Homo sapiens: one gene and its partners. The protein of the gene in region 4 interacts with the protein of the main gene of each other region in a pairwise test. Each region holds a gene or a part of one and is shown on either strand. Other genes may lie near its edges. The genes, in order: KASH5, ESS2, MOB2 and FRA10AC1.

Region 1 (7,019 bases), on a different chromosome or scaffold from region 4:
AAGAAAGGACAGGTACAGAGTCAAAGAGCAGGATGCAGACACGAGCATGGGAGATAGAGGCCGGCTGCTGCAGGGAGGACGGAGGCAGGGGCGCTGGGGAGGGTGGGTGTGGCATCCAGCCCACCTGTGAAGCTGCTTACGCAGAGCCAAGATCTCCTCCCCAAGGCGTGCTGACCCCTCCTCAGCTGTCTCCATGCTCCGCTGCAATTTGGCATTCTCCCCAACCAGACGTCGGTTGCTGAGCTCCAGGTCCTCCAGGCTGCTCAGCAGGTCAGCTGTGGCTTGTCTAGGGGCAAGGAAGGGGTTCAGGTCACTGTCCACAGCCCCTGACTCATTTCCCCGGGTCGAGGTAGGTGCTGGTGGTGGGGAGATGTGGCTCTTTTGGGGAAAGATAAACAGGAGAGAGACTCCTCTGCTCTCCCTGAACTTTCAGCAAAGCCCCGTCCCTCATTCATTTCCCTGAAGGATCCCAAGCCCTACCCGGGCCTCGGCAGGCTGGAGGGGACAGGGTGTGGGCAGGAGGGTCAGGGAGGGGTGTGAGGATAGGTACAGCTCGGGTCTGGGGTCTTCGCCTCCGAAGCTCTCCAGGTTGGCTGGCTCCTCAGCTTCTGGGCATCCTGGAGGGAGAGAGCCAAGAGAATGTTGGCTTCCCTGGAACCCTTAAACGTAAAGTGCCCCAGGGCTCTGAGGTTGGACTCCATCTGCCTCCACCCTCACCTGTGCTCTGGAGAATCTCATGGGCTTTTGGGGCTGCAGTTATACCCACTGTAAAGCCCTCTTGCTTGTCTTCTACCTTGAGCTCAGGCTGGATCTCCCAGATAACCCTAACTCCCCACATTCTTTACACCCAACACTGGGCAGCACTTCACCTTCCCCTTCCCAGATCCCCCACCGACCACTCAGCCACTGGGCGGACCTGGCTCCCTTGCTCCCTGTCACCCCCAGTCCAGCAGAGCCCAGACTTCTCCCTCCTGCCCCTGACTCTCTGCTCCACCCCTCCTCTCTGTCTCCATGCCCCGGCCCTTGCTTTCTCCTCTTGGATCCTCACCAGAGCCTCTTCTCTGGCCTTCTGGCCTCTAGTCCCTCCTCTGCTTGCAGCCCTCCCTGGGCCCCCAAGCCTGATGAAGGAGGTTGAAGAGAACTTCCTTCCCCACCGTTTTTTGTATGGCTAGAGAAATGGAACATGACCACCATTTTTTTTTTTTTTTTTTAAAAGACAGGATCCTGCTCTATTGCCCAGGCTGGAGTGCAGTGGTGCAATGCATGGCTCACTGCAGCTTTGACCTTTCAGGCTCAAGCGATCCTCCTGACTCAGTGTCCCGGCTAGGACCACAGGTACATGCCACCGCACTCAGCTAATTTTTTATTTTTAGTAGAGATGGTGTCTCACTATGTTGCCCAGGCTGGTCTCAAACTACTGGGCTCAAATGTTCTTTCCACTTTGGCCTTCTAAAATGCTGGGATTACAGGCTCACGCCTGTAATCATGACCACTTTTTTTATGGAGCACCTCCTATGTGTGAGGTCCTGGGGATACAATGGTGAGCAAACCAGCCAACTAAACCCAGGTGCCAGTGGCTAACTAGATAATCAGATTTCCTCTGCAGGTGGATGTTCCAATGGAAAGGCCTACAAGTCTAGGAGTGAGCATGGGGAGCAAGGAACTCTAGCCAGGGGCATACCAGGGCTTCCCCTTTGCCAGAGGAGTGGATGACGGCTTGGCGCAGTGGCTCACGCCTGTAATCCCAGCACTTTGGGAGGCCAAGGCAGTTGGATCACCTGAGGTCGGGAGTTCGAGACCAGCCTGACCAACATGGAGAAACCTCGTCTCTATGAAAAATACAAAATTAGCTGGGCGTGGTGGTGCATGCCTGTAATCCCAGCTATGCGGAAGGCTGAGGCAGAAGAACTGCTTGAACCCAGGAGGCGGGGGTGGCGGTGAGCTGAGATTGCGCCATTGCACAACAGCCTGGGCAACAGGAGTGAAACTCTTATCTCAAAAAAAAAAAAAAAAAAAAAAAAAAAGTCCAGCAGGGTGGGGAGCAAGGAGTGGAGGGGAACAGCCTGAGCAAGGACCTGTGCTGGGCAGAAGTGGGGCACATTCGAGGAAGGGCAGCAAGACCAGTGGGCCTGTGAATTCCTGGACTAGAGTGAGGAGAGGTGATGTTAATGATGGAGCAGAGGTAGGCGGGGCCTCGTAGGCCTCTCTAATAGGGCTGGTGTGAGGAGAACGAGTTGGAAACCACCCTCTGAAGAAAAGAAACCCAAAGCTCACGGAAGGAAGGGACGGAGGACCTAGAAAGCCACACTCACAGCTCTAGTCTACAGTAAAGGTCCCTGGTTCCTACCCTATCCCTTGCTCTGCCCTGGGTGGTAAGTCCCCACACTGTCTGACCCAGGGCCTGCCTGCTTCATTCTATATATAGCAATCTCACCAGATGGCAGTTGCCGGGAGGTCAGGGCTCCCTGGAAGGCGGTCTCCTCTTCCAGCTCTAATCCCCTGTATCAAAGGGATGAGGCTTAGCGCCCCACTGTAGCTGCCCCTCAGTCCTCACCAGCCACAGGCAGGGGGATTGCAGGTGGGAGGAGGGGACCGGGTCAGGTGAGAGCTGGCACCACAGGGTAGGAGGGTGAGGCCAGATGGCAAGTGCCCGTGGCCAGATGGAAAAGCAGGAGGGGCAAGGAGTGGGTTTGGTGAAGGGTTGGGGAGGGACCTCTGTCAGCCCCAAACTCCTCCCTTCTCCAGCCCCATTTTATTTCTGTCTCCCAGACCCCCTCTGCTTCCTCATCCAAATTATTTTGTCCTCAGACTCCCTATCTACCCCCTCTGAATCCCGTCTCTTCATTTTTCTCTCCACAGCCTCATTCCAAACACAGTAGGTCCTTGGGCCTAAAGGATGCTGGCTCCAGTAAGCAGGTATGAGGTTAGATCTTAGGAAGGACTTCCCAGAGGAGGATGAAGATGTGGGGACTCACCCATGTAGTTGACAGGCAGCAATCCAGTCACGCATGACAACCAGGAAAGTGTCCAAGTCCACAGTGGCCTTAGGGCCCTCCCCATTGGGGTCCAGGCTGTTGGCCAATGTTTGGAGGCGTGCATCCTGGGGGCCCTGGCCTGTCACAGCCTCCAGGTAGGCCAGCACCTGGGCCACAGCCACAGTGCCTGTGACAGAGCATGCAGTGAGGGGGTCTGGGGCAGGTGGGGAGTGATGGGTATGGACTGGCAGCAGCTTGGGACCAGGATGTCACTGGCTAGGCTGGTGGCACTCCTGCTCCATGGCCCAGTGGAGACACACTGGGCAAGCCCTTTCCCCTCCTCTGAGTCCACTTTTTCACCTGGAAATGGGGCCCAGTCATCCCCCCATCACAGGGTAAACCAAAGGGGATGGACATAGGGACAGCATCAGCCATGCCCCACGCCACCATGGTGGCTGCCTCCCTCCCCTATCCCACGACCCCAAAACTCTGCCCTCTTCCATCAACGTCCCCCAAGTTTTCCTCATTCTAAAAGGCCTTCACCCCATTATCCACGTTCTTCTTCCTGAAGCTTCCCATAATCACCCACTTTGTTCTTACAATACCCCCAAGAGGGGGCCTTAGCCCAGTCTTCTCTCTGAGGCTCCCCAGTTCCCAGCCTCCACCCCATCCTGCCCGCACTGGTCCCCAGCACCCCTCATGCCCCCACCACCTGTCCTCTGAGGGTCACAAGCTTCGAACGTGGAGTTGAGTATTTGCTCCTCCAAGCTGACCGGCATTCCCAGCCTTGCCTCCTCAGGCCGCTCCCGGAGGTACACTGGGGAGACAAGAGGGCTCAGCTCACCAGTGGGAAGAATAAGGAAGGAAGAGGGGTGACCCCAGGTCCTCAGCCTCCTGGGCTCTGTAGCGGGGAGGGAATTCACTCAGAGCACTGAGAGTTCGGGCGGGTGGGGAACAGCAGGAAGCTTCAGGAGGGGGCAACAATGTGAGGGTCTCTGAGTTACTTCCCCCCATCTTTCAAACCAGGAAGTCCCCCCTGCTGTCTTTTTGTGTCCAATTGGCTTAGGAGCCCAGAGAAGAACGCTCTGAGATCACCCTTTCCTCCTCTCCTCTCCAGCCTCCCAGGCTGGACTCAGAGAGGGACAGGGTCGGGGAGGGCAAAGAAGAGAGGATTCTGGGAGGAGCTGAGAGTGAAGGGGGGGCCCAGGAGCCAGGAACAATCCAATAATGCATGGGCAGCCCAGATCGATCCCGCCTGCTGCATCTCCGGTCTCCCAGCCCACCCTGGGGACCAGGTCTCTCTCCTCCCTGCATCCCTAAGGCAAGGGTGGCATCATTGGAGCCCATGGCCAGGGGCTGAGACATGAAGGGATAGGGTAAACCAGACAGGGTGGGCAGTGAGGGAATGGTTATGAGCTGGATCAGTGTGTCAGACCTGGGTGCAGAGTCCAGCTGCACATCTGTGGGCAAGTCTCTTCTGTTAGAGCCTCGGTTTCCCTACTGGGGGGGTGGGTAGAGTGATCCTCCTCACCAGGGCTGAGTTAGCTCTGTGTATGTGAAGCACACGCATGTACACACACACACACACACACACACACACACACACACACGTCCTGGGGTCTATTTGTCTACTGTTGTAGCCACAACACCTGCAGATGGCAGGTGCTCAACAAATGCTCCATGACATAGGAAGAGATCCTCAACTGCAGGAGCCACTGGGCTGGCCCAGCCTCTCTCCCAGGGCTGGAAGTGAACTTCTAGGCTCCCTGCCCTGGCCTTGAACAGCTGGGTGCAGCAGCTCACTGAGCACAGGCTGCAGGACGGGGTAGATCCAGGGGGCAACCGAGGCTTGGCCTCAGACAAGTGGTGGCACCTGGGGCAATGGACTCAACTTCTCTTGGGCCTCAGTTTCTTCCTCTGGAAAATGGGGTTGGTGTTACCTCTTTCCTAGAGAGAAAATGAGATACAATCTAGAAAGGCTTTGGCAGAAGGCCTGGCACGTGGTGGGGACTCAAGAATAGAATTGAACACTTATTGAGCATTTAGTAGGTGCCAGGCCTTTTCTGAGCACTTTACATGAACTGTCTACTAGCATAATAATAATCGATGCTATTATAATCCCTACTTTACAAATGAGGGGACTAAGGCATAGAGAAACTAAGAACTCGCCAAAGGTCACCCTGTTTAACATATGAGTCAACTTTCTCATCCCTCTAACTCTTCCAGGATTCTCTGCAGTGAGTGAAATTTGCACCCCCTCTGTCTTGAACCTATGCTCCTAGGTTTGGCCCTTGGGAAGGGGCGTGTGGACTCACAGTTAGGGGGAGACCAGGGCTTTAGCCCCAGTCTGTTTTCCTCCTCTCACTGTTTTTTTTTTTTTTGAGATGGAGTCTCGCTGTGTCACCCAGGCTGGAGTGCAGTAGCGTGATCTCCGCTCACTGCAACTTCTGCCTCCAAGGTTCAAGCAATTCTCCTGCGTCAGCCTCCCGAGTAGCTGGGATTACAGGTGCCTGCTACCAGGCCCAGCTAATTTTTGTATTTTTAGTAGAGATGGGGTTTCACCCTGTTGGCAAGGCTGGTCTCGAACTCCTGACCTCAAGTGATCCGCCCACCTTGGCCTCGCAAAGTGCTGGGATTACAGGTGTGAGCCACCATACCCAGCCCTCTCAGTGTCTTTCTCATGTTACATGAACGAGGACCCTGAGGCCCAATGAGATGGTTCACCCAGGGCTGCTTGCCAGAGAGAGCTAAGCTGGGAATAGAACTCAGGACTGGCATCAGGTCGTGCTGGCTCTGAGGATCAGCATGTGTCTGAAGTCGCATCCCAGGATTCCCCCAGGGAGATGTCATTTCTGTTCCTCAGGAAGATCTCCTTCCTCAGTGTCTCTATCTCCTCTATGTCTCTGTCCTTGCCTCTTCGTTACATTTCTCTTTGGCTCTTTCTCTCTATCTTTCTCCCAGTCTCTCTTCCCCACGTCCTGTCTCTCTGCCTCCATGTCGCTTGTCCCCGTTTTCTTCCCTGTATCTCAGTCTCTGTGCTTCCCTTCCCATATCTCAGAGACTCTCCATTCCCTAAGTCTTCTCTTTCCTTCCTCTGCTGTTTCTTTTTCCCTTTGCCTTCCTCTGTCTCCATCTCTCCTTCTGGGTGTGTTCCTACCTTTCCTTCCAGAGCCTCTCGAAGCTGTCTCAGCCCTTGCCACCCGGATCCTGGTGGCTGCACGCCCTCTGCTGGTGCAGGTGAAGTTTAGATGGCTGTCACTAGACAGCCTGTCCTCTGGTTCCCACACCCTGGTGTCTACCTCTGACCCTCCTATCTGGAAAGCCTCCTGAGGTCTGGGGCTTTGTAGAAAAAGACGCAGGCTGTGCCGTGGATGCCTGGGAGCCTCTAAGAAAGGGGCCCTACCATCCCCATCAGACTGGGCTCTCTCACTTGGCAGATGAGTTTCAGAGAGGCAACCCCAGTGCCTCCTCCCCACCCTCTGAAGCCAGCTTTCACACCCGTTCAACCTACATCCGTCCGTTCACTCAACAGTAAGTGAGCTCCCACAGTGAGTCAGGAGTTGCTCTGGGGTCCCAGCCAACAGGGCAGTCTCTCCTTCTGGAGCACCTGAACTGAGGCGAGTGTAGACTGAAATGCTCTGTTAGTGTAAAGTACACGCTAGATCTTTAGGGCTTAGTATGAAAAAAACAGATTATCTGGATACATTTTTTATATTGGCTATATATTGGCTATATACATATATATATCTCTATGTATGTATATCCTGTATACATATATAATATACAGGGTATTAGTCTGGCTATATAAGGAAAATCCATTATCAACATTCATTTCACCTGTTCCTTTTTTCTTTTAAAAAATAATAAATTACCTATGTGGCTCATATTATACTTCCACAGGACAGCGCTGCTCTAGGGACTGGGAATACCAGAGTGAATAAAACAGACGCTGCCTTGTGGAGCTCATGCTCTAGCAGGGGAGACAGAGACAAAACATGACATACAGATGTGAGCACTGTGAAGAGAAATGAAGCGGGGCAGGGG
Region 2 (7,019 bases), on a different chromosome or scaffold from region 4:
CCCTGAGGTCAAACAGCAGCGCTCAGGTCAAACCTGAGGTCAAACAGCAGCACCGCCCTTGGCTGTGGGGGCTGGGGTGCACCCCCAGGCCTCTGAGAGTTGGAGTCCCCACCCCTCTCCAAGGGGAACGATGACTCTCTCCACAGGGCTGATGAAAGCTCCCAGCAGGACCACACGCCTAAAGATGCCTCTTAGGGACGGGTCAAAGAGGACGTGGAGGAAAGAGAAGATGGAGGGGGCCTCTCATCCTGTCCATGTGCGGCCATGCTCTGGATAGAGGAGCTGCCACAGTACCCACTGCAGAACCCCGCGGACCTGCCCTGGACTCTGCCGCGTGGGCCATGCCTCCACACGGTCAGGGCAGGGGCCGAACAGGAGCAGGCCAGAGCCACCCTCGCACTTCCCCACCAGCCAGGCGGCCCCTCACCTGGCCAGATTCTCCGTCACTCTCCGCAAGGCTTCCTGCTTCTTGGCCCGGTTCTTGGCAGCGGCCTCGTTGGCCATCTTCAGACCCAGCCGCTCCCTGCGGCCTGGCTCCAGGATCTACAAGGTAGCAGGTGTGTGGGTAGCTGCGCCAGGCCTGCCACACGCCAGGCAGCCCCTCACACAGAAAGCCACTGTGGTGGGTGCCAGCCTCTCTTTGTTGCCTACAAAACCCCCACAACCCATCACCTCCCACTAAAAGCCCCTGGAAAGCCCCAAACCCCACCTGACCTGCCCAAGGCGCAGCACTCCTCACCTGTCTTCGTGTTCCTCCCAAAACCATGACCTCTGACAATCTCTCAGGAAAAAGCAGTCTGTTTTAGTGTTTCCCTGATTATCAGAGTGAACATCTCTGTCTTTATCGGCGCTCTGTATTTCGGGCGCTTCCCCGTGTGCCTGTGGCCTATTTTGCTCTCAAGGGGCTCATTTTCCTTTTCTGCTGCTGTTACTCAGAAGACCCTTGCCAAGACCTTGTGTCAAGTCAACTGTGCTACGCTGTGCACATGTTTTTTCACTCATTTACATTTGTTTCATTTATAACATTTTCTGCTGTATTTGTTATTTTCATTTGTGATTTCTTCCTTTGCTTTTATGTTTAGAAAGTCCCTCCTAACTTAAGATTAGACTACAGGCTGGGAGTGGTGGCTCACACCTGGAACCTCAGCACTTTGGGAGGCCAAGGTGGGAGGATCACTTGAGCTCAGGCATTGGAGACCAGCCTGAGCAAAATGACAAGACCTCATTTCTACACACACACACACAAAATTAGCTGGGCATGGTGGTGTATGCTGTTAGTCCCAGCTACACAGGAGGCTGAGGCTGGAAGGTCATTTGAGCCCAGGAGCTCAATGTTACAATCAGCTATGATTGCACCACTGTTCTCCAGCCTGGGCAACAGAGTGAAACCCTATCTGTTAAAAAAAAAAAAAAAAAAAAAAAAGAGGCGAGGCACAGTGGCTCACGCCTGTAATCCCAGCACTTTGGGAGGCTGAGGTGGGTGGATCACGAGGTCAGGAGTTCGAAACCAGTCTGGCCAAGGAGTTCGAGACCAGTCTGGCCAACATGGTGAAACCCCATCTCTACTAAAAATACAAAAATAAGCCGGGCGTGGTGGCACGCGCCTGTAGTCCCAGTTACTTGGGAGGTTGAGGCAGGAGAATCACTTGAACCCAAAAATCAAACTAAATATTCGCCACTATTTTCTAGTCCCAGTTACTTGGGAGGTTGAGGCAGGAGAATCACTTGAACCCAAAAATCAAACTAAATATTCGCCACTATTTTCTTCTGGTTGTTTTATGGTTATTGTTTTTACATGTAACCTTTTCACCTTTCCACAATGTATGCTGCTACACATCCTGAGGACCCAGCTCCCTTCATTTCTAAATACTCTGCTATTCAGTGCAATCTGAGTTGCCATCTTTATCGGGCCCCAAATTCTGACTTGGATCATGGTTTGTTTCAGAATTTATCTGTTTACTGTTGGCCTGGAGACTCGGGAAGCAGTGGCAGGCATACCTCAGAAGCACCTCAGCCCTTGCCTTGCGCTCTCACATTGGACAGCACGGCATCCTCTTCATTATCCCTCTCGCACGTTTGCCTTGGTTATCCTTGTGTCCCAGACAATTTAGAACCAAGGTAACCAGAACCTCTCCCCATGTTTTGTCTGGACATGGGTTACCTGTACTAAGTATTCTGGGGAAAGGCCCGCAGTGGTATGGGGAGGCCTGTTGTATCTGACCCAGCCCACGAAGAGCCTCCCCTGGTCTGTGCCGGGCCTCACACACTCCACCCTGACCACTCCTACAACACCAGGCTTGAGCCGTGTAATCCAGCGTGTCCCAATCGTGTTCTGTAACCAGGGGCCTTCTCTACAAGCACACAGCCTCGTCCTATGGCCCTCAGGCCTGCAGAGCTCCTCACGTGTCTGTGACCATCCTGCCTCATTCATGAACAGCACCCGGCCTCCAGGATCCAGAGGGCCCAAGCCACTCCCTGCCTTGGTGTCTCAGCCCTTACACCCCCAAATCCCTCTGTGACAGGTCCACCCACCCACACCTGCCTTCAGCACCCTGGCATTCAGAAAAGCCAGCACTCTGCCCGTCAGCAGCTGGGGGCCGATCCCAGTGCTCAGTCCTGAGCCACAGGCACTCAGGGCTCCAGAGGTGTCCACCCCGGTCGCACACAGTTCCCCCATCACCACAACCCACCTTAAAAGCTGGGCCGGGTGTCCTGTCCACGTAGGGCGTTTCCGACCCTTCAACTCTCAAGGGTGTGTTCTCAACCTCCCCCCAGGTCATCATCGGGGACTCGTTCACACCTGCAGACAAAGAGCCCAAAACCACCTCAGGCCAGAGGACTCCCCACCACCCTCCCCTCCAGTCACAGCTTGTTCACCCAATGTGCATCCCAGCTAATACGAAGGCAGGCAGCTAGCCCTCTCTCCTTCCCCAGGACTCTGGAACCCTGGCACCTCCATCCTCCGAAAGGGAAATGCCAAGCTCCCAGCAGGCCCGAGGCAGGCTCAAGGCCCTACAGCCATGTGCTTAGCCTACAAGCCTCTGGGAGGTCTCCCCCAGCCACGCAGGAGGAGACACTCAGGCCTTCCAGGGCTCCCAAACCTCCTAGAACCCCAGGCAAACCTGTGGTGCCTTCACATGCCCTGGCGTGTGACACAGCACCAGCACCCAAGAGCACAGAGGCCAGAGTGCAGAGGGACACCCACGCATGCCACAAGACCACCTGAGTTTCACCTCCACTGAGGTGCTGGGCCTCCCTCCCTGCAGTGCTAGGTAGACTTAGACTCATAAGCACTGTGCACACACCCCCACCCACTGACATCACAGTAAGGACCAGGACAGGACACGTCATCCCAGGATGTCTCAGGCCAGGTCTGCCTGAGAGTCCAGCCCACCCACGGCCCCAAGCAGCCTGGACACCTGGCCTCTAGGGCCTTGTACAGACAGGAGACCAGGTCCCTGAGTTACACAAGGTGTGGGGCAGGCCAGGTAGAGGCCAGGAGTGGCCAGGGCCGACTGAGAAGCCCACCTCCCCCAGGGAGTCCCAGCAGTAGACCCACTTGCCAGTGGGCACTTTTCTCACCAGGGGCAGGGGAAGGAGTGGCAACAAATCCAAATCCACCCACTCGAGGGGACTCCTGGGGGATCAGCTCCTTGCCATCGGGGCCCACCTTGCCCTGTTTGTGCTGGAACAAGCAGAGAGGCTGGCATCAGGGGGACCGCAGCCCACGCTCGACAGCTGGCCGGTGGGCAAACACGTGGGAACATGCTGGAAACACTTCCTCTCCTCAGGGCAAGGCTGGGGCTCTGGGGTTGGCAGCCTTCTTGGAGAAAGAGAGGGAGGGCCCCTGCCCCAACCCCCCAAAAGACCTTGAGGGCCTGTCAAAGTGGGTACCCAAGCAAGGAAAGCCCCCTCCTCCCATCCAGGGAGGTGCCAGGGCCTCCACTCGAGCTGCGCCTATCCCAGCAACTCCAGAGGATGCTGACGCCAGGCCCCTGCAGGGGGCAATGCTGATGACAGGCAATGCTGATGACAGGCAATGCTTATGCTCTAGTCTCTTCCTGCCTTCCCCACTTCAACCCTGTGACTGCCACAGTCACCATCAGAGAGTATCTACTCGTCTTGCTCCCAGACTCAGAAAGCCTCTGCTCTCTGCCAACCCAGGGCCTGTCCCACCCCAGCCACCCCCTGGGGCTGGGCTCCCTCTGCGGCTCTCTGGCTTCCCTGCCCGGTGTGTGGGCGTGCAGCTGCCAGCCTGGGCTCACTCCCAGCAGTCCCTTTTCTCTCCTGCCCCTGCCATCAAGGGAGCTGGCACAGATCTGGACCTACAGAACGTGTGTGACCAAGGCAGTGTTCAATGGAAGCCCACTGGGGCCAAGGAAAGACTCAGGATCCTGCCGCACAGGGCCCCAGATGGTTCCACTCACTGAGCTCTGCCAAGCTCAAAGAGATGGGAGAGATCATGCCTGCCCCCAGGCAGCCCTGTCCAACCTGGCCCATGCGGCCCTGCTGACCCGCCTGCTCACCTGGGCATTGAGGGCGGCTGCCTGCTGGAGCTGGCACCTGCTCAGGGCTTGGCTGAAGGGGTCCCTAAGGAAGCGCGTGTTCTTATGTACCACCTGCCGGGGCTTCTTAAACAGCTGCTCCTCGTCAGGGACACCTGGCAGACGAAGCAAAGGTAGCAGCAGGTGTCAGAAGGGCAGCAGCCTAAGGAGCATGAGGAGCTCGCTTCTCGGCCAAGTCACTCCCAGATGAACAAAAGCATTGAGCAGAACGCAGGCCCCAGTGCCGCTGGAGAGGGTCTCACTCACTGCTGACCTCACACAGACCTGTCCACCCTTAGACAGACCAGTACCCATCAGAAGCCCAAACTGCAAGGGGGCACGGCCATACACACCTGGAAGGCTGCTCCAAACACAGCCAGACACACACAGCTCTACCCAACACCTCCCCATTTGGCTGCGAGGCCCGCCACTTACCCTCTGGATAGTACATGAGGGAATTCTTGGCCTTGTACTTCCAGGTCTCCACACTGGCCTGGCTGCTCTCGATGGCCTGGTGCTCTGCTGACGGGAGTTCGAGATTATCTTTCTGCCTCTGCAATCACATGGGGAAAAGTGATGGTCAGAGATGCCCCTGGGCATTGTACCCATGGCCCTGGGGCTCCCCAACCACCACAGAGGGTGCCTACGCCTATGTGACACCCCAGACCCCAGAGACACCTTCTCAAACTCTTCCTCAGCCTGGTAGAGCCAAGCGTGGCGTGCCCGGCTTCTCTCCTTGGCCACCTCCATGATCTCCTGGAAGGAGGCATTGTCCTCACTCGTGTAGCGGCTCAGGAAGACATCTAGGCTGGGCAGCGGCTCCTTCTCCTCCTCCTCTCCAGCCTCTCCTGCTTAGGGGTTGCGGGAGGAGGAACACAGCACCCTTTGCAGTCAGGAAAGAGGAGGACACCCAGGCCCAGGAATCATAGCCCCCAACATGCAGGGCTGGAATCCTCTCCCCTGGTCCTGGCTTCTGCCCATGAAAGCCCACACTGCCAAGGACTCCCCACGGGGGCAGAATCCACCCACCCTGACTGCCCAGAGAGCCCTCAGGTGGTACCCTACAGATTCAGGGCCAGCTCTGCTCATGTGCTGGATGCCAAGGGAATTACGTGGTCTGATTCAGACTGGAGAAAGCAATACAGGTGTTAGAGCAAGAGCTCGTGATCACAGGCAGGCTCCTCCCCCACCAAAGTGGTGCCAGGCCTGTGGGTGCCAGGCCTCCAAATCCCTGGGGCTCTCCCTCACTCCCTAGGATTTCCTTACCTTACCCACTCTTCTCTTCCTGGTACCTGTACTACAGGTGGGTGGTCATCGCCTAATCATCCTGACCTGAGAGCGAGCCCCAATTCCAGGGATCTCATATGACTTAGTCCTCTGGATGGGGCCTCACAGGTGCTAAGCCACAACCCCAAACACCCCCCCCTCCGACCAACCCTGCCACCATGGAAAGTGGTACTCCCACTGAGGTGGTGCCCTGGTGCTGCGTGTGGTGGTGCAAACTTCGGTGGGGCCACCTGGAGAGCTCTGCCTTCAAGTCTAGTGACAGTCCTGACCACCTGCTACACGTGAGGCTATGCACAAGGCACAGTGGCTACAAGCTCAAGACCCACGGGATGAGGACAGGGGTCAGAAACTCTATTCATCTCAGAGAGATAAGAAGTGAAACCCTGACCATCTCTGAGACCTGCAGAAGTGACTGCCTTTCTGAGCCTCAGTTTCCTCACCTGTAAACATGATGATGGTTCCTACCACTTAGGTTCTGAAAAGGATTCCTATATTTACTGGCATGTAGGTGTACAGGTATTGAAAATCTGCAAACTGGCTAGGCATGATGGCTCACACTTGTAATCCTAGCACTTCGGGAGGCCAAGGTGGGAGGATCACTTGAGCTCAGAAGTTTAAAACCAGCCTGGGCAACATAATGAAACCTCATCTCTATAGGAAAAAAAAAAAAAAGGAGAAGAAAAAAATCTACAAATTGCCCTGTGATGCACAAGCTACATTTCAACAGATAATCAAGCTTCAAGGACAACAAGGACTGTGTTAATGGCCGAAAAAGCTGGATTGTAAAGCAAAAAGTATCATGTTTGCATGTTTGTGCAAACACACAACACATCTGTGCTACTCCAGCACAGTGGAGTCTACAAACTGATAAGAAAGAGTGTCTCGTTTGTCTATACATGCACTGACATTCTACTACTGATGAAAAGAGGGCCTGACAACGCAGAAGTCCCATGGCGTGCAGAACACTTGCATTCAACAGGACTCGGAGTGCCCTTTCCTAAACCGACTCCCCCATCAAGTCACGATGTTACCATATAGAGCTGTGTGTCCCAGCAAACATGCTGAAGATGACAACTCTTTCATCTGTTCCATGTGTATCTGTGCAAGGCCCACAACACCACATGTGCTGTTCCCAACACGGAGCATACAGATGAAAGCAAAACAAAGCTTCTGCTCTTGTGCAAGGGA
Region 3 (7,977 bases), on a different chromosome or scaffold from region 4:
TGTCTTCGTCTGTGTTGTGCGTCTTCATCTGTTGTATGTCTTCACCTGTGTTGTGTGTCTTCACCTGTGTTAATGTGTGTGTCTTCATCTGTGTTGTGTCTTCGTCTGTGTTGTGTGTCTTCGTCTGTGTTGTGTGTCTTCACCTGTGTTATGTGTGTGTCTTCGGCTGTGTTGTATATCTTCGTCTGTGTTGTGTGTCTTTGTCTGTGTTGTGTGTCTCCGCCTGTGTTATATGTATGTCTTCGTCTGTGTTGTGTGTCTCTGCCTGTGTTATGTGTATGTCTTCGTCTGTGTTGTGTGTCTTCATCTGTGTTGTGTGATTTCGTCTGTGTTATGTGTGTGTCTTTCTGGGATGTTTTAATTGTCAGTGGGAGAGTGTTACTCTCCTCTATTCTTCTTGATTTTCATTGGACTCAACTGTGAAACTTTCCTGCTTGCTTTTAAGTGACCCCACTTTCCCTGTGCCTTTGTGAGGGTGCCGGGGGCATTGTTTTGCTGCTTCCGTAGCTTTTGAGCTCCTTCTTCTGTTGTTTTCACAAAGTGATTAAAAACACGAAGCTCTCCACGAGTCTCCTTGTTGGAGGGGAGGCTACAGACGAGCAAGTGGAGGGGCCAGTGTGGTCCAGGCAGTGATGGCTGCAGGGGTGGGCTGGAGACCTCAGGGGAACCCCTGCTTAGCTTAGTATAGATACAAATGTCGACATGTGGGTGGAGATTGAGGCGTATGAGTGCATGTGTGTATACACATGTGCCTCCGTGTTCTTCCAGCTGAGAGGGCCTGGAAGCAGTGACACCCACTAGCAACGAGCCCACCCAGTGCTCTGATCTTAGTGTTTTCGTTTCTCGTTTGTGTAGACCCAGGCTGGAGTGAGGTGGTGTAGTCATGGTTCACTGCAGCCACCAACCTCCTGGGCTCAAGTGATCCTCTCACTTCAGCTCCTCAGTTGTTGAAACCACAGGCACATGCCACTATGCCCAGATAATTAAAAAAAAAAAATTGTTTTAGAAATGGGGGTCTTGCTGTGTTGCCCAGGCTGATCTGAAACTCCTGGCCTCAAGCGATTCACTTACCTGGGCCTCTCAAAGTGCTCTTGAGATTCCAGATGTGAATCAACGTGCCTGACCAGGTCTCAGTTTTGAATTCATTCATTACTGTTTTGGGGCAGGGTCTCGCTCCGTCACCCAGGCTGGAGTGCAGTGGTGTGATTATGGGTCACAGCAGCCTCAATCTCTTGGGCTCAAGTGATCCTCCTGCCTCAGCCTCCCATGTAGCTGGGAACACAGACACACACCACTATGCCTGGCTAATTTTTACATTTTTTGTAGAGATGGGGTCTCCCTTTATTGCCCAGGCTGGTCTCAAACTCTTGGGCTCAAGTGATGGTCCCTTCTTGGCCTCCCAAAATACTGGGATTACAGGCATGAGCCACCATGCCTGGCCATTTTTTTTTTTTTTTTTTTTTTTGAGACGGAGTCTTGCTCTGTCGCCCAGGCTGGAGTGCAGTGGTGCGATCTCAGCTCACTGCAAGCTCTGCCTCTCGGGTTCACGCCATTCTCCTGCTTCCGCCTCCCGAGTAGCTGGGACTACAGGCGCCTGCCACCACACCCGGCTGATTTTTTTGTATTTTTAGTAGAGACAGAGTTTCACTGTGTTAGCTCGGATGGTCTCGATCTCCTGACCTTGTGATCCTGACCTTGTGGGAGGCCCGTCTTGGCCTCCCAAAGTGCTGGGATTACAGGCGTGAGCCACCACGCCCGGCTGCCTGGCCAGTTTTTAATATTTTCTAATGAAAAGAACCAGGGCTCCTTGGAGAAGGGGCTGATTCCCGGGCTGGGGCTGGGAATGCAGGGGGAGCCTGGAGCACCCTGCAGTGCCAGGAAATCAGGACATGCCCCAAAATGAAAAGTCTGTTGATGGGGGTGCATCAGGGGACCCAGCAGCTGATGGCAGGAGCTCCCCAGGGCCAAGGACGGACAGTGTGATTCACAAAACAAAGTAGTGTTGTGTTCTAGCTCGGAGTGCAGCCTCAATAGCCAGGACTTCATCCCAATATAAACAAATGGCTGAATATATAAATGAGTGACCAAGAAGAGGCCGCTCTCTGGTGCCGAACTTCCAGTAATTCCCGTAGCTACTCCTCCGTCAGGGTGGTAAGGGGTGGTCCCCACCCCTTCAGTGTGGTCTGCGTGCAGCAGCTTCGTTCGAGAGCGCGGTGCGGGGCGGGGAAGACGAGAGCGTCTTTGCGTGGGGAGGCCTGGCAGTCACAGCCTCAGCCAGGAGATCGGGAGCACCTCCCGCGATGAGCCGTGCTGACAGGACGGGCCGTGGGCACGGGGCGACGAGGGGGACATTTCCCTCTGTGCTCTTCCTACCCACACCCACAGCCCAGCCTCGTCGTGAGGAGAGCAATGGATGGATCCAGACGTCTGAGTCAAGTTTGGACCTTGCTGCATCAATGTGGATTTGTTCATTGTTAACAAACAGACCATCCTAGTGTAAGGGTTAGCAATAGGAAGAGTGAGTGGGGGGCCATGGGGATTCTGTGTTTGCAGTTCTTTGTAAATCTAACACTTTTCTAAAACTAAAAGCTTATTAAAGGTAAAATAACCTCTGACACAGACACATGGCCCGTGCCCCCTGCCCCGTCCCGCCTTGGTTGCGACCGTTCCCCCCTGCGTGGTGCCTCTGCCCCGCTCCTGTGCTCTCTGTTCCTGGCCAGCTCCTGGCCCTGGCTGTGCCCAGAAGGTGCTTTTGCTCTTCCTTTTCTGGGGTGGCGGGGCCAGGCCACACTGGCACCCGTCACTGGCCTGCGGGCCTCTGTGGCAGCTCCTCGTGGAGTCTGCAGAGCCTGCTCCAGGTCTGCTCCTCTTCCCAGTGCAGTGTCTGTCGCTCAGTGTCTGTGGGTTCCAGCTGCCCCTCACCCTACCCCACTCCTGCCCCACTACCTAAGTTTTGATCAATAGGAATACCTGCTCCCTGCACGTGTCCCCCAGTGAACAAACACAGATGAATGTGGACGTTCCTCTGGCGCCAGCCCAGCCCTCTCGGGACAGTGGCATAAGCCACAGAGCTGCCGTGTGCTGACCAGACCCACTGGGCACACTTGGTGTGCTCCCCCACCCTACCGGGCACCTTGTCTTGACTGTTCCCCCGCCCCCGTGCCACCCTCACCACTGCCTTGCCTGGACCAGACTAGGCACGCTTGGTGTGCTCCCCCCACCCTACCCGGCACCTTGTCCTGACTGTTCCCCCGCCCCCGTGCCACCCTCACCATTGCCTTGCCTGGTTGCCTGGCTTCTTGTGCCCGAAGCCTCCACCATCCCCAGCTTCCTTTATGCTCTGCCCTCCAACCCCCAGCAGCTCATTCTCCCTGTCATGGGCCTCTGCACGGCCTTCTCTGTCCAGGCCATGCCTCCCGAGAGTGGGCAGGTCTGCGTCATGCACCTCCTGGTCCCAGCCCTGCTACTCACGGGGGCCTCCCCAGGCCTGGAGCCCGCTCTTCCTGTGGCTCCCTTTGCCACTTGGGTGACCTGCCAGCACCTGTGTCCCTGCTGTTGGTGGAGCCCCCGAGGGCAGACCGGCAGCCGTGAGCACGGTGCCTAGGTGCGTGTGGCACCACAGGGCTGTGGGATGGCCTTGCCAAGGCAGAGGAAGGCCTGTGGGCGCATGGACGTCCTGAGCCTCACCGGGCTGTTTGTTCTGTAGAGACCAGTTACGCACTGCTCAGAGCATGGCTTAGGGACTGGCCTAGTGGGGAAAATGAAACTGCAGCCTGTTGGGCCTGCTGCTGCTGCTGCTTAGGGAGGCGGGGGCCGGCCTGGGGCCATCCTCTGCTGTGGCTCCTGGAGAGTGTGTCTGTGCTGGGTTGGTGTGCTGTCTCCCCGTGCGCCCAGGCTGTGTGTGTGCGTGCAGTCCAGACACCACAACTCCCATGGGGGCTGGTATTGATGGGGGTGAGCCTACCCTGGCTGCTTTCCTGATGGCTCTGTGCTCCCCGCAGCAGCTGGTACCTCAGGCTGTGTCCTGACTCCTACAGGGCTTCACACCGACAGAGGTGCTGGGACAGCTTCTGAGGGGCAGTGGCTGGAGATGCTGGGGTCTCTTGATTGGCAGGAAGCACAGGAAGTATGGCTCCCATGCGGGTGGGGGATGCTCCTGATGACCCCGTGTTGTCAGGGGGCTGTCACTGCCAGTGGGGTCCACGCTGACTCAGGATGAGGAGAGAGCATTGCCCTCTCAGGTGTTTGCATTTTCAGGATGTGGTGGTCTCCTGTGTGCAGACCAGCCAGAAGGAAGGCCGGGGCCGTGCCGCTCTGTGCGCCCCCATGGGGAGCTGCTGTGGGCATTTCTGTTGGGCTGGGTGCCCTGTGGTCCTGGCTGGCAGCAGCCTCAGCCCAGCACCGTCCAGGCACCGCAGAAGCTGGTCGGCCCCTTCTCTCTCCAGGGCCATCCAGCAGGAAAGCCACTTTGAGTGCCTCCAGCTGCGTACACACTGCAGGGCAGGGCGGCCCATCTGTCTGTCCGTCTGTCCGTCCCTGGCCCGAGCACTGACTGGGCTAGGCTGGGCCGGACAAGGGAGAGGGGAGTGCCATCGACCTGGAGCTCGTCAGCAGAGTTGCTGCCTGTGTTCAGAAGGCCTTTCCTGGGGGCTTGGCAGCAGAGGACCTTGAGGTGGAGCCCAGGACCTTTCTGATGGATCCTTCTTGCAGGCCAAGGACGGCCCTGTCCCCTCCCTTCTGGTCCCACCCCCACCGCCTCTTCTGGCAGCCTGAGGTGGAGCCCAGGACCTTTCTGATGGATCCTTCTTGCAGGCCAAGGACGGCCCTGTCCCCTCCCTTCTGGTCCCACCCCCACCGCCTCTTCTGGCAGCCTGAGGTGGAGCCCAGGACCTTTCTGATGGACCCTTCTTGCAGGCCAAGGACGGCCCTGTCCCCTCCCTTCTGGTCCCACCCCCACCGCCTCTTCTGGCAGCCATGCCACTTGGAAAAGGCCAATTCAGACGCTCCCTCGTTTCACCAGCCTTGGCCAGCCCTTGCCTCTGGAAAGGGGGCAGCTGTTTGTCTCTGCCAGGCGTCCCATTGGCCAGGGAGTGAGGCTGGAGGGCCCGGCAGCAGGCATTTGCGAGTGCTGGCCAGCCGGCACCCCGCCCCGCTTCTCCTCCCCACCTTCCCGTCGCCCACTCATGCTGGGAGACCACTGCAGTCTCCCTGAAGACCAAGCCCGGCCCGGCCAGTCCCTGCAAAGTGGACTCTGCTGCAAAATGGTGCTTCAGGCTGTCAGCAAAGTGCTCAGGTAACACCTGCCAGCCTGGCTGGGGGAGGGGTGTGTAGCACATCTGTCTGCCCTGTTCTTGCCCCCAGGAAGGAGGTCAGGGTGGGGAGGCGGCGGACTGTGTCCGTGGCTGCCCTCCCAGTGTGGCCGGCGGCTGTGCAGCGAGCTGTGCTGGGCCACACGCAAGCTGTCCAGGGCAGAGGCGGCTGTGCAGTCCCGGGCCAGCCTGGCGGGTTTGCTCTGGAGCCCTGCCCAGTGGGGCTTTCCTTAGCCGCCTGCACTTCCTGTTGCTCTGTGGGAGAGGAGCGGGTCTTGGTGTCCTCGACCTTCGGGGTTGACCCCACCTTGCCGGCACAGGAGCCTGCCTTGTCCTCCCGCAACCCACAGGGTGTGGTTCCTCAGCCGCCAGCAGGTGTGCCTGTCTTTGTCCCAGCGTGCGGCTGTTTGTGCCCTGGGCAGGGGCTTCAGCCACCCAGGCAGAGGTGACCCGGAGTCTGTCCTTGTGTGGCCTTGTCCAGAGAAGTGGCATGGGGTTCCCGGGTGCCTATTTTTGTGCTGGCTGCCATAGGGATGTTGCCGGAAAATCCATTTTTGACATTTTTCTCACCTGTACTTTCTCTGACCTGCTGCGGGGGTGCCTCCCTGCCCACACCACTCAGCTCGGTGTGTGCAGGGGCGTGTGTGGGAGTGTGCGCCCAAGTGTGTGGGAGCGTGCACCCGTGTGTGTGGGAGTGTGCACCCGTGTGTGGGCATGAGGGGCCGGGGGAGTGGGGCAGGCACAGCCAGCTGCAGCAGTGAGTGTGTCCTCCCGGGTGGGGTTGCCTGGTGGGGGTGTGAGGCGAGCGTGGCCTGCTGGACGTGCCCTCCAAGGGCCGGGGGCTGCGGCACCCGTGTGCATCTCCGTGCCTCTGCCTGTCCCTGGGCACCCGGCTCCATCTTTCTCTTCATAGGCTCCTTCCCTATCTCCCGATCACCTGTGCATTCAACAGGGAGGGCTCCACAAGTAGACACAAGAGTGCCGGCCGGTGACCCTGCCTAGGATGTCCTATCTTAAGGTGAAACTGTGAGGTTTTGGAAATGTGTGGGCAAGTTGGCAGTACTCGTGAGTTCAAATCAGGAATGGTGCCTGACATCAGTGGTGTGAGGGGACTGGCGTGTGTGTGTGTGTGCCTGTGCCAGTGTGTGCTTGTGTGTCTGAGGCCAAATGCCGAAGGCAGCTCCACAGGAGACACAGAGGCAGGCCTGGAGCCCAGCCAGGCCCTAAGGAAGACGGGCGGAGTCCCTTCCCTGGGGCTCAGGAAGGTTTCAAAGGAAGCGATGAGGAAGCCACCTTGGCTGGGAGCTGGATGCATGGAGGGGCCGAGGCGCAGTGGAGCATGGTGGCCACGTGGGGCTGAGGTTCTAGGACAGCAGCAGCACCTGCCTGTTTGGACGTTTGGTCTGGGATGTCTGCGGGCGTTCCTTGTGCCATCTTGGCTTTTTCCTTCTCAATGGGCCTCTGCAGAGGGCACAGTAGGCTGGTAAAAGCTCGCTTTGTCTGGGGCTGCTGACCTGTTTGGGGGGGCAGACAATTAAACTCAGAAGAAAAGAAGCCACACTCCACAGCTTCCAGCTGGCTGAAGCCTGTGGGCAGTGCAGGCTGTGCTGAGAGATGGACAGGGGCTCCGGAGGCCTTCCCACCCCTCAGCCTGAGGCCGTGTGACAGAAGTGGGATCAGCACCCAGGGAGAACTCGGGTTAGAACACGGTGTTAGAAATGCAGTTTTCAGGCCCCCCCTCAACACCCAGAAGGCCACATCAGAAATGTAGGGGTGGGGGTGGCGCCAAGCACCCCAGCATGTGGTGCCCTCCCTGCATGTTGGGGTGACAGGAGGTGCCCGTGGCGTGCACCCTGGGCAGCAAGGTGTGCTGAGACCCAGGCTCTGTACCGGGTGGCTACTGGGGGCTCTGCCTGGCCGGGTCTTGGGGGAAGGGGTCACTGGGAGCCTTGACTTTCAGGCTCTGGGTGGACCAACCAGCACTGACATTCACCCGAACCAAGGAGCATGAGGGGCCCGGTGCAGATGGCTGAGTGGGGTCCAAGGACCATGCCCTCCTCAGAGGCGTCACCTGCGGGCCTTTCTCCTGCACCCCACACGCTGCCTGGTCACCGTATTTTCCAGGCCTGGGCTTGGGGACTTGTATTTCTGGGCCCCTCGTGCCTGCCCCACCCCTTGGCGTTGACCTGTGGTGGGAAGTGCCAGATGAGGGCCACCTCCTGCTGCTGCCCACTCACCTCAGGGTCTACAGGCTCGACTTCCATAGCAAGCGTGCTCTGGGCGAGTGGGGGTCTCTGAGCCTGGAGCACCCCATTCCTGTGGGCCGTGGGGCCTGGCCAGGATTCCATCCCTGTGATAATGAAGTTGACACTCGTGGCAAAGGTGCAGGGCACTCGGTTGTGCTGTCCTCGTCCCTCAGGGCGGATGAGGAGTGGGCGGCTCCCAGCCCACTCCCCAGCTCCCCCTGCCTGTGAAGCAGTGTGCACCTGCTGTGGGCAGGGTGAGACCCCCTGTGTGTTGACTGTGTGGTTGTCTAAGTTTTCCACGGGAGCCCAGCAGCTCTGATGCCTCCCTGTGCCCCTTCCCTTGCCCACCAAATTTGTGTCTAGCAGGGATTGCCTCACTTCCCAGTAGGGATCAGTTACGTGCTGGGTGCCAAGGAGGCCGA
Region 4 (7,152 bases):
GACCTTAGTCTGCTCATTCACGTATGCGTAAGAACTGTGCTGCATTATACTTTCATCCTCCATATTAACTTCACTTTGAAGGCAAGTAATGGCAAGAGACCACCATTCAAGCCCCTTCTGAGCTACAACATTTACAAATAAACAGTCCTTGACAGTTGAATGAAAAATATATGTAATGAAAAGGTTTCACTGATTTCTGAAAAGATTCCAGAAATCTGAAACTCTTCTTTCCCTTTCAATAAACCCCTTTGCAGAATTAATTTTTATTTTTCCCACAATTGTTCTCCAATTTTTAATCAATGTATTAGCTTAATGAACAAAAATTCATTCACTAGAGCAATTGTCTTCACATGTAAACAGAATTCAAAAATTTCACTCTTGTTTATTTATACTTCATATTAATCTAGAAAGGATGTGAAAAATAGATCAATAAAAAAAAATTACTTACCTTTTTTTCCTTTTGCTGGATTCTCCACAGCGTTCATCATCACTAAAATCAGAATCATAGCCTCCATGACCATGCATCTGTAAAGGAGTACAAAGTCAGCTATTTAGAATCTATGTTGCCAATTGTCCAGGAAACAATAATTCAAAAATAAGTTATCTTAAACAGCCACAATAGTTTTAAAGGATCATTGTGGGCAGATTCCTATTCACAGGCCATCTAGCCATCTAAAACTTTCATTCGCTTTTAAATAAGAGACATACCTTTCAGGAAATGCATCAACATTTTTCACCCTTAATTATCATTAGGTGAACAAAGAAGGCTACTCTTTGATCTTTTCACTGAAAAACCAGGCCTAAAAGCTGCAGTGACTGCTTACAAGGTTTAGCAATCCTTCACTTTTGATTCAGAGTAGTAATAATCACTGTGTGTTTATCACCAACTTTGTTCTAGACATTGTGTTAAATACTTTACAAACAACACTTCTAATTCTGCAAGTTAGAAAGTTATCTTCATTTAGGAATGAAGTAATCAAAGTTAAGTAAATCTATTTACAAATCCAGTAAGTGGCTAATCTGCTGTACTTGATTCCTGCGCCCACAATTTCAATTACTCCAAATTTCCTCTCTGGAATATGATTTACTATATTCCAGGAGAATTACAGTATTTGTGAACAGTACATCATCAATTGATGAAAATTTTCCTGTAATCTTTTTCAATATATGTAGAGATTTCCATTTTCTTTTGAGTTTCTTTAAGGTAAACCACCTTGCCCTTTGGATTAGTCAGCTTTCTCTTGTTTCATTTTATTTATCCAGTTATTTTTGGAGAGTCTCGCTCTATTGCTCAGGCTGGAGTGCTGTGGCGCCTTGATGGCTCACATCCTCAACCTCCTGGGCTCAATCAATCCTCCCACCTCAGCCTCTCCAAGTAGCTGAGACTACAGGAGTGCATAATCACACCTGGCAAACTTAAAAAAATTTTTTTTTTGTAGATAAGGGGTTTCGCCATGTTGCCCACGCCGGTCTCAAACTCCTGGGCTTGAGCAATCCGTCCACCTCAGCATCCCAAAATGCTGGGACTTCATTTTAGAACTGAAATTCTTAGAAATGCTGGAAGACCTCAGTTGCCACTCAATTGTATTGGAAGAAGCTCCTAGTTCCAGCTTTGCACTGAATTTGGAACACACACTAAGAAGGAAGGATGGACTATTTGATGTCATACATAACTAATTTACATGGCTGGAAGGAACAGTCCAGGTTAAATGATATATCAAATTGTTAAAACTAATATAACGACAGCAAGTGCAGCTGGAAAAAGAGGAAAGAACTCTCTAAACTTCATTGCATTGGATCTAGGGTAAACGACATGTTTCTAGTCCTGGCTACCTTGAATAAGTCATTTCATCTCCCTGGACTTCATCTATTAAATAAGATAGCTACATGAAATAATCTTTAAGTTGTTTAAATCTTTAAATAACCTTTAAAGTCTGTAATTCCATTTTCAAACATAGGTGTGTGGGTATATACCTCTCTTCTCTGCCCCACTAAAATCCTAGATAGGAAGATGCTAGTTAAGGTTGGAGATGAAGGTTTGAAAGCCCGAGTTCCAACTCTACCCTCCCTTACATCTGTTATTGCCTTACACACCTGGATTTTACACCCTTTTTTAGGTCAACTCCAGCTGTCTTACCACATCTGTTCAAGCCATATTGTCCTCTCACTCTTTGTCCTATGTCCTCACGTTCTTTACATCTTGATGGGGGACAGCTGTAGTGTGTTTAGAGATATATTCTAGGATCAGCCTACTAGATTTCACTGCTTGGCTCTGCACTTTCCATTTGTCTTTCTTTGGGCCTGTTCCTTAACCTCTCCAAGCCTCAGTGTCCTCATTTATAAAAAGAGGCTAGTAAGATGGCTGACCTCATACGAATGGAGATTAAAAGAGTTGCCTCATCTAAAGGGTTTTAACGGTGTCTTGTACAGTGAAACCCAGTAAATGTTACATCATCATCATCATCTTTTCCCTCGCCCCAGGACACGACTTCCTATTCTTGCTCCCACTCTCCCATTTCTTTATTCGCTGGCCGCTCCATCCGACCCATACCTATCTTAACTCACTGGTTGAACTAAAAAGCTCTCACTCACTTCAGGCCTACGAATCAACTGACAAGAGCGGGGAGAAACTCAAAAACGGAGATGCCAGGTGTCTCCAGAATCTGTCATCCAAAAAAAAAAAAACCAAACCAAAACAAAAAAAAACCCGACGATCAGCTAGTACTATATGAAAAACAAGTTTTGAGGTCCTTCTCCCTGATGCCAAATATACCCACAGCCCTCCTCACACACCCTTTCCCTTCCTCCCTGTGTGCCAAGTTCGCCCCCGGAGTCGTCGTTTCCTTCTTTCCCGGCAGCTGCAGCGACGACCCACGGCCTGAGAGAGCCGCTGCAGCACAGGTCCCGTGCGCCCTGCCGCACAGCCTCGCCACAACCACCACCGCCGCCGCCGCCGCCGCCGCCGCCCGCAACCCGCCTCTCCCTACGGGTCCCGACTGGGCACCACTTCCGGTCCGACACGGCCACGTGTTACATCTAAATGGCACCGTCCCCCGAGTGCGCCGACCTTGTGCTACAGCCAGAACAGCTCCGGGAAACAAGGGCAGCGGGAGAAACGGCCCGGAAAGGGACGAAGAGGCTTCCAGCTTTCGCCAAGTCGCGGCTCCCAGTTTTTCCCTGGGCCTCCTTCCTTTCCCCTCTAGGGAATCCGGCATCTAGTACCGCTGGCACTGCTTGCTGCTTAGCCCACGCCTCTCATTTGAAAATATATTTTGTTTTACCGTGCCTATCACCTGCCGTCCTCTCTCTAGTAACCTTAGTAACGCCTCCTCGGAGGATCCTCTCAGAGCAGCTCATCAGCGCTTCAGATCAGCCTCTCCCTCCTTCCCCCAGTAAAACAGTTCTCATAATTAGAACAAAAATATCTCTCCATCGTTTCGCCACCCACACAATAGATACCATTCCAAAAGCAGTGCTGATGGCAGAAGAGCTCATCGAATTTGTGAGGAAAGAAAGAATAGGAGGAGAGATTTCTCAGGGTTGAGGATTCTCTGCCGACAAGCGACCTGGCACATGCGAAAAGGGATCCAAAATAGAATCTTAAAAAGAAGAAGAAAAAAGGCAGGAAAAGTTGGATTATTTTAAGCGCCACTAGGTTCTTCCTGTGCTTTGCGTTTTCTACATCACGACGCCCCACTCTTTCCACTCTAGTTGTTTGGTTCATGTCTTGTCTCTCGCTGGCATTAGCAGCTATTCATTTTTTGCTTCCTCCTCAGTACCCAAAACGGTGCCTTGGAAATCACAAGTGCTAATTAAATATTTGTTGAATTGAACTGGCACGCTTCTGGCGTTTACAGTGGGCCCTTTTTAGAGAAAACCTTGGCACTTAATGCACAGTCATTTTACATCTTTTGCCCTAAACAGTAGATAACGATATCCTTATCAGTTCAAGTCTCTAACCCTGACAATAAATTATAGATACATTCTGCTTTATCCATTGCACTGAATGTGATCTTAAAAGGCTATAAGATAAATTAAATTATTGTAAATTAACTTATTCCAAAATGCAATCAGATTATACTTCAATAAAAACTTTTACTAAAAAAAGTGAAAGCAATAGGAAGCCTTACAATTTGACGTTATAGTATATGGAATTATTTTGTCAAGCAGTTTCTTTTTTGGTAAATATATTAAATATATAATTATTTTATTGTTAATAAAACTAAACAGACCTATACCTCATATCCAATTTCCTTTCTATCCATATTTGACATTTATTAGCATTTTTCTACCATCCCTAGCATCTTCTTGTTTGTTGCTTCATTTTACTCTTCCAACAACCCTGTGCTGCTGTGTTATTAGCCTCATTTTACACATAAGGAAGAGAGGCACAGAACCTAAAGCCACAAACCTGGTGAGGGTCGAGAACTGGGTAGTACTTGTGTCTGTCTCTCTATAAGACCCAGTTTCTCTCTCTCTCTTTCTCTCTTTTCTCTCTCTCTCTCTGTCTCTCTCTCCCCCACTTCATGGATTGTGTGGGAAGTAGCTTCTGGTTCCAACATTTCTAAGAATTTCAGATCTGTTGCTACCAGTCCATTCAGGCAAAGATTTCCATTTTTTACTTTGAGACAGCAGTTACTGAAAAAGAGTAAATAGAAAATATATATTAGGCATAGATTGCATGATCTGAACTAGAAATAATACAGGATAGAAAACCCACCTGCTTAGGAAATCTCAAGTTAACAATTATAGCTCAACAACAATAAAAAACACAAACATTTATTCAGTGCCTACTCTGGGCAGGACACTGCCCTAGACATCAGGGTTACAGGTATGTAACAGCAACTCCTTATCCTTGAAGGTTGACTAGTAAGACAGACAATGTGTGGAATAACTACAACAATATATTCTATCATATACCAAGTGTCTAGTACATGCATGAACCTGTTGTTCCTAATTTATAAAATATGTTATTTCAATGGATATGAAAATTTAAATGTGCACCAATGCTATGTAACTCAAAGCAACAAAATACTATATTAAGTATGTGGTCAGGATGAGGGAAGTTGGGTGATGATGGTGGTGATAATACCAAGTAATAATTCTGATATAAACTATGACTGTGCATTCTTTTTTATTCAAGACCGAGTCTCACTCTGTCACCCAGGCTGGAGTGTAGTGGCGTGATCTCAGCTCACTCCAACCCCTGCCTCCTGGGTTCGAGCAATTCTCCTGTCTCAGCCTCCCGAGTAGCTGGGACTAGAGGCGCACACTACGCCCGGCTAATTTTTGTATTTTTTTACTAGAGATGGGGTTTCACCATGTTGGTCAGGCTGGTCTCGAACTCCTGACCTCAGGTGATCCACCCACCTTGGTCTCCCAAAGTGCTGGACTTACAGGCGTAAGCCACCGCGCCCAACAAATGTGCATTCTTTCTTTTCTTTTCTTTTTTTTTTTTTTGAGACAGGGTCTCACTTCATCACCCAGGCTGAAGTATAGTGGTGCCATCTCAGCTCAACCTCCACCTCCCGGGTTCAAGCCATTCTCCTGCTTCAGCCTTCCCAGTAGCTGGGACTACAGGTGTGAGCCACCATGCCTGGCTAATTTTTGTATTTTTAGTAGAGGCAGGGTTTCACCATGTTGGCCAGGCTGGTCTCGAACTCCTGACCTCAAGTGATCCCGCCTTGGCCTCCTAAAGTGCTGGGATTACAGGGGTGAGCCACTGCGCCTGGCTGAATATGCATTCTTCTAATACTGTGTGTCTTTGAGAAGATTGCATTTTCCATGTTCTTTTTATAATATGATGCTGACACTTCTCTAACATAAGCTAATACCTATGGCCACAGCTTTGAATCTGGGCATGTCAGTGACTATAGCAGAAGTAATGCTAAGACACTTCTGATGCTAAGTTGCAAAAGGTGTTAGAGCTTCTGCCTGGGTTTGTCACTCTACTTCTTTAGCTGACATGGAGTGGAGCAGAGATGAAGTAACTTCACTGAGCCTCACCCAGATTGCAGACTAATAATCAGAATAAGTATAATTGTTTCAAGCCACTAAGACTTTGAGGTTGTTTGTTATATACCGATAAATATCCAGAACCATCTGCTGTCTCACTTAACCTCCATAACATTTGATGTTATGGAGCCACGCTGGGCTTTCTTTGTTTCTTCAACATGCATGCCTCTTCAAATTTACCATTTCCTCTACCCGGAATGGTCTTAAACCCTTTCTGTTTGCCTCCCTAACTCCTCTTTATCCTTCAAAACTCAACTTAGGTGAAGGAAAGGCCTTTCATGAGCATCTCTCCCACAGACTAGATAGGATTACTGATAATATGCACATTACTTTCCATTGCACTTAGCTACATACGTAGTAATAATTTAGCCCTGTTTCCCTCACTGAGATGCAAGCTCCACAATGGCAGGAAGCATACCTCTCTTTTTCAGTGTGGAATCCCCAGTGCTCAGCACAGTGCCAGACACATGATAGTTGCTCAGAATATTTATTGAACAAATGAAGTGGGTACTATTATTATCCCTATTTTACAATAAGAAAACAGATTTTTTTAAAAAAATTATATAACACTTCCAGAGTCATGAGTAAGCAAATGGGGCACAAATATAAGTGACTTCAAAGCTCACACCATATATATGTGTGTGTGTGTGTGATATGGTTTGGCTCTGTGTCCCCAGCCAAATCTTATGTTGAATTGTAATCCCCAATGTTAGAGGTGGGGCCTAATGGGAGGTGATTGGATCATGGGGGTGGTTTCTAATGGTTTACCACCATCTCCCTAGTGCTGTCTTGTGATAGAATTTTCAAGAAATCTGGTTGTTTAAAAGTGTGTAACACCTCCCTCTTTGCTCTCTTTCTCCTACTCCTGCCATGTAAGACATGTCTGCTTCCTCTTCACCTTCCACTACGATTGTAAATTTCCTGAAGCCTCCCCAGCCGTGCTTCTTGTGCAGCCTGTAGAACTGCGAGTGAATTAAACCTCTTTTCTTTACAAATTACCCAGTCCCAGGTAGTTCTTTATAGCAATGTGAGTACTAATACTAAATATATACATATATATATACACACACACATATATGTATATATAGAGAGAGATAAGTAGAGAGAGAGTGTTATCTCTCTGTTGCCCAGGCTAGA

What was found.
Region 1: the proteins of FRA10AC1 (region 4) and KASH5 interact in binary tests that used the Homo sapiens proteins (3 or more experiments, as listed by UniProt).
Region 2: the proteins of FRA10AC1 (region 4) and ESS2 interact in binary tests that used the Homo sapiens proteins (3 or more experiments, as listed by UniProt).
Region 3: the proteins of FRA10AC1 (region 4) and MOB2 interact in binary tests that used the Homo sapiens proteins (3 or more experiments, as listed by UniProt).

The regions. Positions count from the first base shown.
Region 1 is NC_000019.10:49,391,249-49,398,267, reverse strand, and holds part of KASH5 (protein KASH5), read right to left. Parts: intron 4,923-7,019; exon of another isoform or gene 4,869-4,922; coding exon of another isoform or gene 4,868-4,868; exon of another isoform or gene 4,849-4,867; intron 4,792-4,848; exon of another isoform or gene 4,436-4,791; coding exon of another isoform or gene 4,411-4,435; intron 3,793-4,410; coding exon 3,688-3,792; intron 3,163-3,687; coding exon 2,976-3,162; intron 2,500-2,975; coding exon 2,435-2,499; intron 618-2,434; coding exon 551-617; intron 287-550; coding exon 125-286; intron 1-124. UniProt on the Homo sapiens protein: As a component of the LINC (LInker of Nucleoskeleton and Cytoskeleton) complex, involved in the connection between the nuclear lamina and the cytoskeleton.
Region 2 is NC_000022.11:19,134,633-19,141,651, forward strand, and holds part of ESS2 (splicing factor ESS-2 homolog), read right to left. Parts: intron 5,396-7,019; coding exon of another isoform or gene 5,393-5,395; coding exon 5,223-5,392; intron 5,098-5,222; coding exon 4,980-5,097; intron 4,661-4,979; coding exon 4,527-4,660; intron 3,848-4,526; coding exon of another isoform or gene 3,788-3,847; exon of another isoform or gene 3,686-3,787; coding exon 3,583-3,685; intron 2,801-3,582; coding exon 2,691-2,800; intron 2,315-2,690; exon of another isoform or gene 1,707-2,314; intron 1,628-1,706; exon of another isoform or gene 1,577-1,627; intron 544-1,576; coding exon 428-543; intron 1-427. UniProt on the Homo sapiens protein: May be involved in pre-mRNA splicing.
Region 3 is NC_000011.10:1,483,763-1,491,739, reverse strand, and holds the start of MOB2 (MOB kinase activator 2), read left to right. Parts: upstream 1-4,960; 5' UTR 4,961-5,183; coding exon 5,184-5,293; intron 5,294-7,977. UniProt on the Homo sapiens protein: Stimulates the autophosphorylation and kinase activity of STK38 and STK38L.
Region 4 is NC_000010.11:93,699,582-93,706,733, forward strand, and holds the start of FRA10AC1 (protein FRA10AC1), read right to left. Parts: upstream 3,012-7,152; 5' UTR 2,794-3,011; exon of another isoform or gene 2,593-2,793; intron 2,215-2,592; exon of another isoform or gene 2,095-2,214; intron 526-2,094; coding exon 449-525; intron 1-448. UniProt on the Homo sapiens protein: May be involved in pre-mRNA splicing.